2 separate regions of the Homo sapiens genome follow, and region 1 is linked to region 2. A link means that fine-mapping ties the variant in region 2 to the expression of a gene that starts in the linked region. Tissue or cell type: blood mononuclear cells. Region 2 holds a variant in brackets; the other region holds the start of a gene. All regions are shown on one strand. Distances are between the middles of the regions.

Evidence for each region. PIP is the estimated chance that this variant, and not a neighbour inherited with it, causes the effect.
Region 1: it holds the start of CDC42BPB, and the variant in region 2 is fine-mapped to the expression of CDC42BPB in blood mononuclear cells (TOPMed, PIP 0.94). The same link has a PIP of 0.9 or more in monocytes.

Annotation. Positions count from the first base shown.
Region 1 is chr14:103,054,790-103,059,892 of GRCh38, reverse strand. It overlaps CDC42BPB (CDC42 binding protein kinase beta), which reads left to right and starts at 2,344. Exons shown (of 37, transcript NM_006035.4): 1 at 2,344-2,894. The coding sequence starts at 2,720. RefSeq lists an enhancer at 1,207-1,857 and silencers at 1,853-1,962, 2,003-2,502, 2,593-2,672.
Region 2 is chr14:103,005,655-103,010,850 of GRCh38, reverse strand. It overlaps CDC42BPB (CDC42 binding protein kinase beta), which reads left to right. Exons shown (of 37, transcript NM_006035.4): 3 at 2,296-2,379. Among named protein-coding and RNA genes, the nearest start is that of CDC42BPB, 49 kb to the left of the region's middle. RefSeq lists an enhancer at 1,585-1,879 and a silencer at 1,585-1,879. The variant G/AG (reference allele first, on the strand shown) is at 2,785.

The DNA of each region.
Region 1 (5,103 bases), 49 kb before region 2:
CAGATGTGAGCTGGGTGGATGAGCAAGCACAAGACCCATGGATCCATTTAGGTCCTGTCCAAAAGTCCCTCAGGAAGGGCAGAGGGCCCCTCCCCTCCACAGCCACCAGGTAAGCATCCACCCAGTGGCACATCTGCTTGAGTTAAGGGGACTTCAGGAGACAAAGCAGCAGGGAACCACCGAGGAGCCCATGAATGTTCCCAGGAGAGACAGGGTCAGCTTTACCCTCTGCCAATCCAGATGGGATTGGAGCCCTTCCCCACTTCTCCCTTTCTCCCTTCCCGGTGGTGGTTCTAGATGGGTGGAAGTGGGCTGAGCGAGCCGAGGGAGGTTTGGGGAAGGAGATGGCACCAGGCACAGCCCCCTTTCCCCTTGCTCATCTCAGGCCCTAAGGGGTCCAAGGGGGAAGATTTAACTTTGATTTTGAGCCAGGTGATCTGCTCAGACTTTTTAAAAAAAACTTTTAAGGTGTCATACACAAATAGTAACATGCAAATATTTAGAATACAGTTTGATGAATTTATACACATTTACAGACCCAACGTTACAAAACGGCTGTGCTGAAGATACAGAATGTTCCCAGCCCCCTAGAGGCCTCTCCTTGTGCCTCCTTCCAGTTGATACCCCAAAGGCAACCAGTACTCTCACCTCTAACGCCAGATTGTTCTCACCTGCCTTTAAGAAATGAAGGTATTATATATACATACACACAGTGACATGCACTCATCTTAAGAAGACAGTTTGAAGAATGTTTACTTATGCGTGCTCCCATGTAACTACTACCCAAATCCAGGCATAGAACATTACCAGCAGCCCAGAAGGTTCCTCCTCTTGTTCCAGTCAACAACTCCGGCATAGGCAGCCACTCCTCTTCTTCTTCTTCTTCTTCTTATTATTATTACTATTATTAAGACGGAGTCGTGCTCTGTTGCCCATGCTGGAGTGCAGTGGAGCGATCTTGGCTCACTGCACTTTCGCCTCCCGGGTTCAAGTAATTCTCCTGCCTTAGCCTCTCGAGTAGCTGGGACTACAGGCGCGCGCCACCACGCCCGGCTAGTTTTTTGTATTTTAGTAGAGACGGGGTTTCACCGTGTTGCCCAGGCTGGTCTCGAAGTCCTGAGCTCAGGCAATCCGCCCACCTCGGCCTCCTAAAGTGCTGGGATTACAGGTGTGAGCCACCGCGCCAGGCCCACTCCTATTTTTAGCTCCAGAGATTAGTTTTGCTTCAGGCTCCCTTAACGTCCTGCTTCAAACCCCTATCTGCCCCTTCATCGGCTCCACCTGGAGGCCACCGCTTCCACGGAAGCATGACCCCTTCCCCTGCACCCGCGCGCCCCAGAAGCTCTCAGATACCCCCACGATTTCGGTGACCTTCCGCAAGCTCCAGGAAAAGCCCCTCCTCTCCTGACGCCAAGGGTTTGTTGGGGTTGGGGGGTATCTCCATCAGCCTCCCTCCCCCAGCCACCCAAATTAACCAACAATCTTAGTAAATGCAGCGACTCGCTAGGCAAACCCAGCCTGGAGACAAATATCCGGCCCCTTTCCTACCAAACTGTCACACCTAGGCATTGGTCTGCAGGGAGGGCTGGACAGTGGAAACTGAAACCCTCTGCAAGCCATCACGAATCCACCGGGCACTGGGGACGCTGGCTCCCGCCTTGGCAGCATCCCCCAGAAGCCTGGGCCCTGACCCCACACCGTCTGGGCCTCAGTCTCTCATCGGTAAAGTCAGGGGTAGGGCCCGAGTCTTCCAGGACCGCTTCGAGCTGGGACAAGCCGTTTTAAATAGCCCACAACCCGCCGAGGCCATCAGAGCTGCGCCTGCCGGGCCGCCCTCGACCCCCACCTCGGCCGGGCAGGTCCGAGGCCCCGCAGGCAACATGGGCCCGCGGACTGCGGGACGGGGCTCGACGGCCTGAGATCGCGACTCTGCCTCTCCGATACTTGGGGTCGTCTTCGGCCCCGGGATCCGCGACGCGCGCGGTCGGACCCCGAATACTGAAGGCACCGGGTCCGCAGGGCGAAGGCGCACACGCCCACCAGGCGCGCTCTGCGCATGCGCGGGCTCCGCAATCTCAGCGGCCCACTCGCCCCGCCCCGCCCCCCCCACCCCCACCCCGCGCCGCTCCCCAGGCCCGGCCCTGCCTTCCCAGCATCCCGGCTCCCTACGGCAAGCGGCGAGGCCCGAGCCCGCCGGGAGCAGGGAGCCGGGCGCGGGGCGGGGCGGCGCGCTGAGGTCAGCGCGGCGGCGGCCGGCCCCGTAGTGGTTGGCTGCGCTGGTGCTGGCCGCGCCCTGGTTGGCTGCGGGCCGCGGGGCTGGGCCGCCGGGTCGGGGCTGGGGTCGGGCTCGGGCGCCGGCCGGGCTTGCGCAGCGCTAGGCTCCTCGCCGCTCCTAGTCTGCGGCGGCGGCGGCGGGGAGGGCGCGGCCGCGGGCGGGGCTGAGGGCGGCGGGGGCGGGCCGCCCGAGCTGGGAGGGCGGCGGCGCCGAGGGGAGGAGAGCGGCCCATGGACCCGCGGGGCCCGGCGCCCCAGACTCTGCGCCGTCGGGACGGAGCCCAAGATGTCGGCCTAGGCCGGGGCGCGACGACGCGGACGGGGCGGCGAGGAGGCGCCGCTGCTGCCGGGGCTCGCAGCCGCCGAGCCCCCGAGGGCGCGCCCTGACGGACTGGCCGAGCCGGCGGTGAGAGGCCGGCGCGTCGGGAGCGGGCCGCGCGGCACCATGTCGGCCAAGGTGCGGCTCAAGAAGCTGGAGCAGCTGCTCCTGGACGGGCCCTGGCGCAACGAGAGCGCCCTGAGCGTGGAAACGCTGCTCGACGTGCTCGTCTGCCTGTACACCGAGTGCAGCCACTCGGCCCTGCGCCGCGACAAGTACGTGGCCGAGTTCCTCGAGTGGGGTAAGTGCGCGCCGGCAGGGCCGGACCTGCGGCTCTGCGACCCCCGCGCCCCAGCCCGCGCATCCCCACGCCCGCCCATCCCCGCCCGGACAGACCCTGCCGCCCTCCTGCCCACCCAGCTCGTGGGCTTCGCCTCCTCTCGCTCTGGCAGCGCCCCCAGGCCCGCAGCCCATCTCTCTCCAGCCGCTCCTTGCACCCTCGTCCCTCCGCTAGCTTTTCATCCCTCCTTGCCCTCCCTAGGCTCGACATCCGCGTTCGATCGTCCCGCCCCCTCATCCTGCCCCTTGGAGCCACATCCTACGTTCCCACTCCCACCCCCTCCCCCCCGCCGGGCCCTCGCCCTGGCGGCTTCCTAGATCCACCCTCCGAGTCTGGATATCATTTCCTGCAGCACTCACTGGGATATCCGCCCCCGCCCCCGCCCCCGCCCCCGCACCTCGCCTTTGGGGTCCGGAGGCAGTGTGGAATTAGTTCCCTTTCCCCACCCCACGCTTCTCTGCGTTGTGGGGGCAGCTGGGTGTGCTTTCTGCATCTGCCTCGCCCACTGCCCCGTGGGACCCCCTTGCATCCCCAGGGAGCCCAGCTCTAACGGCCCCTCCTGGGTGACAGCCTGTCTACATCCCCTTGTTGGTCAGAGCCTGAATACCTACTTTGCTGTAACACCTTCAAGGGAATTTTAAGGTTAAGGCTTTATTTTAAATAAACCGTGCAAGAGGACTTTTTTTTTTTAATTCCAATTCTGCTAGACCTTTGTGATATTTGGAGGGGTAGCTGGAGCTATCACTTAGAAACTTTCTCATCTGAATTTTGCATGCCTTCTCTAGTTCGTTCCGGATCTATAATGTTTTAATCATTGGTCAGCTAACCTATTATGCTTTTTTAGGACAAAAATTTGATTAAACCATTTAACGATAATTAGGATCCTAAAGACAGGTAAAAGTGCAGCGTGAAACTCTTTTACTTCATCTCTCCCTAACGGGTGTGCCGGTCAAGACCCTCAGACTGTCTCACCTAAAACCACTGAGTAGGAGGAGGAAATGCGTATGTTCAGGCCAAACCTATGAAAACCTTATCCTTGGGTCATTTGCGTCACTGGGCTAGGACTGTTCAGTTCGAACCAGTAATTTCTAATCTTTGGGGCTGATAAAGCTGATATTTATACGAAGAAACAAATGAAAGTGTTCCACAGTGAGGCCTCCAGGCCTCCTACTCTACTCTGCCAGATTGGTGACTGGAATTTGGAATTTTGTTTACAAATAAAACTTAAGTTGCAATATTCTTTAGAGGGCTTCTGTTGGATTACTCTGTAGTGAAATGTTACACGGTATCTTGTGAGAGCAGCAGTAGAAAGAGGTCCTGAGATCAAGGACAGCCTGTGATGCTTTATTTCCGTGGGAACCACCATTCTTGGTTACTTATAGTATCAGTAAATTAAGAGTATTTGCTTTCTAGCGTCCTTTGTCAGTGACACGATTTCCAACTGAATAATTAATTGACTTCACCGTTGCTTTGAAAGTGAGGTCTTTGGTGCATGTTAAAATCTGAATATTTTGTTTACCTTTTCTTTCTTTTCTTTGGAGACGAGTCTCACTGTGTTGCCTAGGCTGGAGTGCAGTGGCATGATCTTGGCTCACTACAACCTCCATCTCCTGGGTTCAAGTAATTCTCCTGCCTCAGCCTCCCGAGTAGCTGGGACTACAGGCACGCACCAGCATGCCCGGCTCATTTTTGTATTTTTAGTGGAGAAGGGGTTTCACAGTGTTGGCCAGGCTGGTCTTGTACTCCTGACCTCGGGTGATCCACCTGCCTCGGCCTCCCAAAGTGCTGGGATTACAGGCGTGAGCCACTGCACCCAGCTTGTTTACCGTTCCTTTCTGATCACTCGATCTTGAAACCCACACAGTTCCACTGTCAGGTTCAACTTGGTGCACCACCTGTGAGTGTGACTGGGAAGAGGAAGCAGAGGGAAAGTTGGTTTTGCTGGGAAGATGTGGTCCCACTGGCCTCTGGCCTGGGACCTAGAAGATTAGTCTGAGGGCGGGGGCCCTGGGGGCCATTGTGCAGCCACCTCTCTCCACCAGGCATTACTGGTGGGCTTCCCTGGAGGAAGCTCTTGTCAGCATGTGTGGAGGTCATATTTTATGAGATCTGGCCTTTCCAAATCTAAACGGGAACTGTGCTGTAACATAGACATATTTTCAAAGTTGTA
Region 2 (5,196 bases):
ACCGTGTTAGCCAGGATGGTCTTGATCTCCTGACCTCGTGATCCGCCCATCTCAGCCTCCCAAAGTGCTGGGATTACAGGCGTGAGCCACCGCGCCTGGCCAAGTTTTGCTTCTTAAACTGTGCAGTGCCTTAGCACCTATGCTGAGGTTTGATCTAAGCTCTCCTTGGCTGGGGAACTGTGCCTTTTGGTTCACTGAGGAAAAATCAAACAAGGAAACGCCCTGTGTCACATCCCAGCAGCAGGTGTGCTCTGCCCACAGCAAACCTACTGGACACCACTACAAAGCGAGATGGCCTTTGCTGTGCAGGGCGTGCATTTTCCAGTGTGCAGACGTGAAAGAAGGCAAATCAGTACTTTAGGGAAATAGCCCCCCTCTCGCAGCACCATCCCCATGAGTGAGTCTCACCAGAGGGATAGGGGAGGAGAGCAGCCCCTGCAAGGCTCGTCCCATCGTGCCCGGAGCTCCCAGTTTATCTCAGTACAGACCCTGGATCCAGGCCTCACCAGCCAAAGTCAATTTACCACAGGCCAGGATGGGACAGAGAGTTTGTTTATTTTGTTTGAGATAGGGTCTTGCTCTGTCGCCCAGGCTGGAGTGTGCTGGCATGATCACAGCTCACTGCAGCCTCCACCACCCAGGCTCAGGTGACCCTTCTTCCTCAGCCTCCTGAGTAGTTGTGACTACAGGCATGTGCCACCACGCCCGGCTAATTTTTTTTATTATTTGTAGAAATGGGGTGTCACTATGTTGCCCAGACTGATCTTGAACTCCTGGGCTCAAGCAACCCTCCCGCCCCAGCCTCCCAAGTAGCTGGGACCACAGGCATGCACCACTGTACCTGGCTAGTTGTTTTCTTTTTTTCTTTTTAGTAGAGACAGGGATCTTGCTATGTTGCCCAGGCTAGTCTCAAACTCCTGGGCACAAGTGATTGTCCTGCCTCCACCTTCAAGAGTGCTGGGATTATAGGCATGAGCCACTGTACCTAGTTGAGAAAGCCTTTTAAAAGTAAAAACAGATTGCATTAAGTGATTGCCTGTCTGTCTGCTACCAAGCATTGAGCTGTGCCAGGCATGGGGGCTTTGGAGGTGAGCAGGGCCCAGGCCACACAGAGCCCTTCAGCCATGGCAGGACTTTCCAGAATGCATTTAGGAGGGAGGGAGAGGCACACCAGGGCAGAGAGACGACCAAGGGAAATGAAGGAATGAGAGAGAAAATTGTTTTAACAGAATGGTTTACGGTTATTTTTAGTACTCTTTTTTGCCAAAAACTTAATGCAAAACTCAGTTTTGTGTGAGTTTCAAAGAAGATAACATTGATCGCTTTTTGAGCTCCTCTGATTGAAGGGAGCCTGTCCTTTCCATGCGGCCTTTGCTTCTTGGATTCCCTCCTTGGTCTTGTTCCCTTGGAGCCTCAGAGTCCATATCTGTACAAGATGGATTTTAGAAATCCCCCGCAGCTGGGGTCGCTGTGAGGGTGAAGTGGGGGTGCGGATGCGCGGCTCAACACCGTCTCTGGCACGCAGAATGTGCCTGGTGAATGGCAGCTCTCACAGTGACTCTACGATGTGACTGTGTGGTATTTGATGTTAGAAACAGGCAGGTAGATGATACTGCCATTTAAGACCTCTTCAGGCCATGGCTGCTGCAGGCACGGGGACATGCTGGCTGCTTGCCATTGGCAGCCAGAAGGTATGGAAGCCGCTGTCACTGCCAGTGAGTAGCTTACAGGAAGTGCTGAGTTGGAGACTTGGGCCCGTGTGTGAGTGACTTACGTAGGGTGGAATGCACCAGACAATGGTGCAGACATCTTGACGGGTGTTGGTAGTGATGGCAGAGCTTATTCAAGATTTGGTAGAAACTGGAAAGTCCAAGAGGACTTCCTGAAGGAGGTGGCACTTGAATTGTTCTTTAAAGAATGTGGCTGGTGGCCGCGCGCTGAGTGCTGACTGTGCCCCACAGTGTGCTGGGCACATTAACTGTCAGTGCTCATGGGTCCTCATAGGTGTCTCAGGAGTCCGGTCCTGCCATTAACCTCCTGTAGTGGTGGAACCCGAGCCATAAAGGGGTGAATTTGCAGGAGTGAAACTCCGGAGCCCACGTGGCCGGTCCCTTTCTCTGTGAAGAAAAGGTTCTTGATGCAGGAACTGGCACATGCTAGGTGGGAAACTTGGCTTTCGGTCACTGCTGGTTTCACAGGCTCCTGGGCTGTTAGGATTTCACTACAGTTTAGCTCCAGCGTGCTAGCCTTTTGTTCAAGAACCGCATCTTTGTTCAACTCACATTTGCACTGCAGGTTGCTGTTGTCAAAATGAAGAATACTGAACGAATTTATGCAATGAAAATCCTCAACAAGTGGGAGATGCTGAAAAGAGCAGAGGTAAGTATGGAGCTTGAAAAGCCATACAAATGGGGCTTGGGGTGAGCAGAAAGTGACTGTGAAGCCAGCTGGGGAAAAGCTGCAGCCACCCCACAGCCCTGGGCCTCCCTGCCCCCCGGACAGAGCGAGCACTCTCTTTTGAGGAGGTCTCAGTCTCCTCCCTGGCGCCTGCTGCTCCCCGCCTCAGCGACCACTTGCTTGCTGGACACTGTTCCTGAGAGTGCACCCTCGAGAATGTTGGCGGGTCCTGTTTACTGTAAAGGCAAATAAAAAGCATCGGGAGAGTTTCAGCATTGATTGCAGTTCTGCTCCATACACAAAAGGAATTAACACGTTTGGACCCTGCTCACATACAGAATAGGTCTTTAGATTCCCACCTAGAGGATCCTCACGATTAGAAATGAA[G/AG]TGGACCACTGCCCAGCAGGCTTTGATCAGCTCCTTTTTCTTAGTTCCGTGTCAGTCTTCTTGGTGGCCATTCCATGCCTCTGACCCCACCTCTACAGCCGCGTGCTCTGCCATTGGTCTCCCTCCTGCCTGCCTAAGGCAGGCCAGGCCTGCTGGGGAGCCCACGCTTTTCCTCTCTGGCCATCTTGAGTTTCTGTCCTCACCCGCCCTGTTGTCTTCCCCTCCCCTGCACTCAGAGCCCAGGCCCTTCCTGGCCAGTTGACCTGCTTCCTGCTTCAGATCTGCTCCGTCCATCATGCTCCATCCTCTCCCGTGACTCCCGCCTCTGCCAGAAGGCACTTGGCAGTCCCCTCCTTGCAGGCTGCCATTCATCACAATGGTTTGCTGTGGCCCCGTGTGTCTCTGACCCGCCCTGAGCGAGGCCTGTGCCTGGCAGCGCTGCGGTGGCTCTAGGCTGCTCAGCCCTGCGGTCAGCGCTTGCTTCTGGAGTTGAACCTCTCGACGTGGCCACCTCCTCATTTTGGGAAGTCCTTCTTGGGTTTCTAGACCCTCTCCTCTTACTCCTCTCACCCTTCTAGTAATTTGAGGTGACGCTTTCCTCTTTGGTCCTGGAATTTGTGCCTGTGCTGCCCATGATGGTTGCCACCTTGGGCCGACAACAGTACAACCATCGATTCGGGCCAGATCTCTCTGGGGCCCTGGGTTTTATTAACTTGGTGGGTGTTATCGGTTCCTCGTGACTCAGTCATTCTGGCTTTTCCCTCCCCCGCTCTGCACCCATTTCCCCTTTCCCTGCTATGGCACCCAGCACAAGGTCTCACAACCATTTGTTGCTCACTGAACGCGTGTTGGTTGACAGAGTTAGCACCATTTTGTAGTTACCCTGGTCTCAAAATGTCGGTGGCCTGTGATTGCTTCGGCCCCCTGGGTCTCCCAGCTTCTGGGGTGTACACGGTCTCCCTTCCTTCTTTGGGAGAAGCCTTTGCTCTCTTTTCCTCCATCTTCACTCAGTCATCTCACTGTGTGCTTCCGCTGGGCCTGCCCTCAGCCCCAGCAGCCCTTTCCCCGCCCCAAACAGTGGCAAACACAGGAATGTTATTGGAGCAAATTTTTAGGGGAAAAAGTAGCTACTGTTACATGAAAGTGTAGAGAGGTATCAGGTGTTTGGTATTTACCTAAATGTCATGGTGGATGAGTACATTTAAAAAGAGTAAATATTGCTGATTTAATTTGAATCTGGTGACACAGATCCAGTTTAATTGGCATGCTCAGAAAAGCTCAAGAATGTTTGCCAGTCGCGGTGATTATACTAGAGTATATGTGTGTAAGAGATATAAAAATAAATATGGTGCTAGTTGCAAATAATTTATCTTTTTATTTTTATATCATAGACTTATTTTAAGCATTAAATTTTATAATACTGATTTATAAAAAATTTTCTTAAAAGCATGAATTAAGAGGTTGGTCAGTAGAAGAGTTGCTAAGCAGTGTAGTTTATAATTTTTCTACCAGGCAAGGTCTTTATTTCATCTTACTTGGTTAAAAAATACTAAAAGTTTCTCTCTCTGCTCCTTAAACAAAACTGCTGGATAATACATAAGTTTCCTGTCAGCAGGTCACCTTGCAGGCAGTCCCCAGTTTAAGAATGGGTTTTTCCTAAATGCTCTGGGCAGCTAGCTGCCAGGCAGAGCTTCAGGGAGCGTCTCCTGGAGGCGTTGGCACAGGTGCCGCAGATCCTCGGGGCAGCCCCGGCCTCCTGAGCCCACGGTCTCACCTCACCTGGGACTCAGCACTCCATCACCATTTCTTTTTGGGGGCGCGTTCTGGAAGACAGGAGGTCAGGCACACTGAGGCTCAGGTTTTCTTTAGTTGTCCCTTCACCAGGCCCTTGTGGCTGAGGTGGCTGTTGGCAGAGGGGTTGTGATGATTCCAGAATTGCTGGTCTCTGCATGTCTGGACATTAGCAAGCTGAATGTTGACCGCTTGTCATGTTGTCATTAGTAGAACTGGGACACAGCTGCAACAGCCATCTTTTTTTTTTTTTTTTTTTTGAGACGTCTCTCCCTGTCGCCCAGGCTGGAGTGCAATGGCACGATCTTGGCTCACTGCGACCTCGGTCTCCTGCGTTCAAACGATTCTCTGCCTCAGCCTCCCGAGTAGCTGGGATTACAGGCACCCGCCACCACGCCTAGCTAATTTTTGTACTTTTAGTAGAGACGGGGTTTCACCATGTTGGCCAAGCTGGTCTTGAACTCCTGACCTCGCGATCCGTCTGCCTCAGCCTCCCAAAGTGCTGGGATTACACGCGTGAGCCACCGTGTGCAGCCAACCATTTCATTTTGAAAGAAAAACTTTTTTTTTCTTGTTTTAGAGACAGGGTCTCACTCTGTTACTCTGTTGTACAGGCTGGAG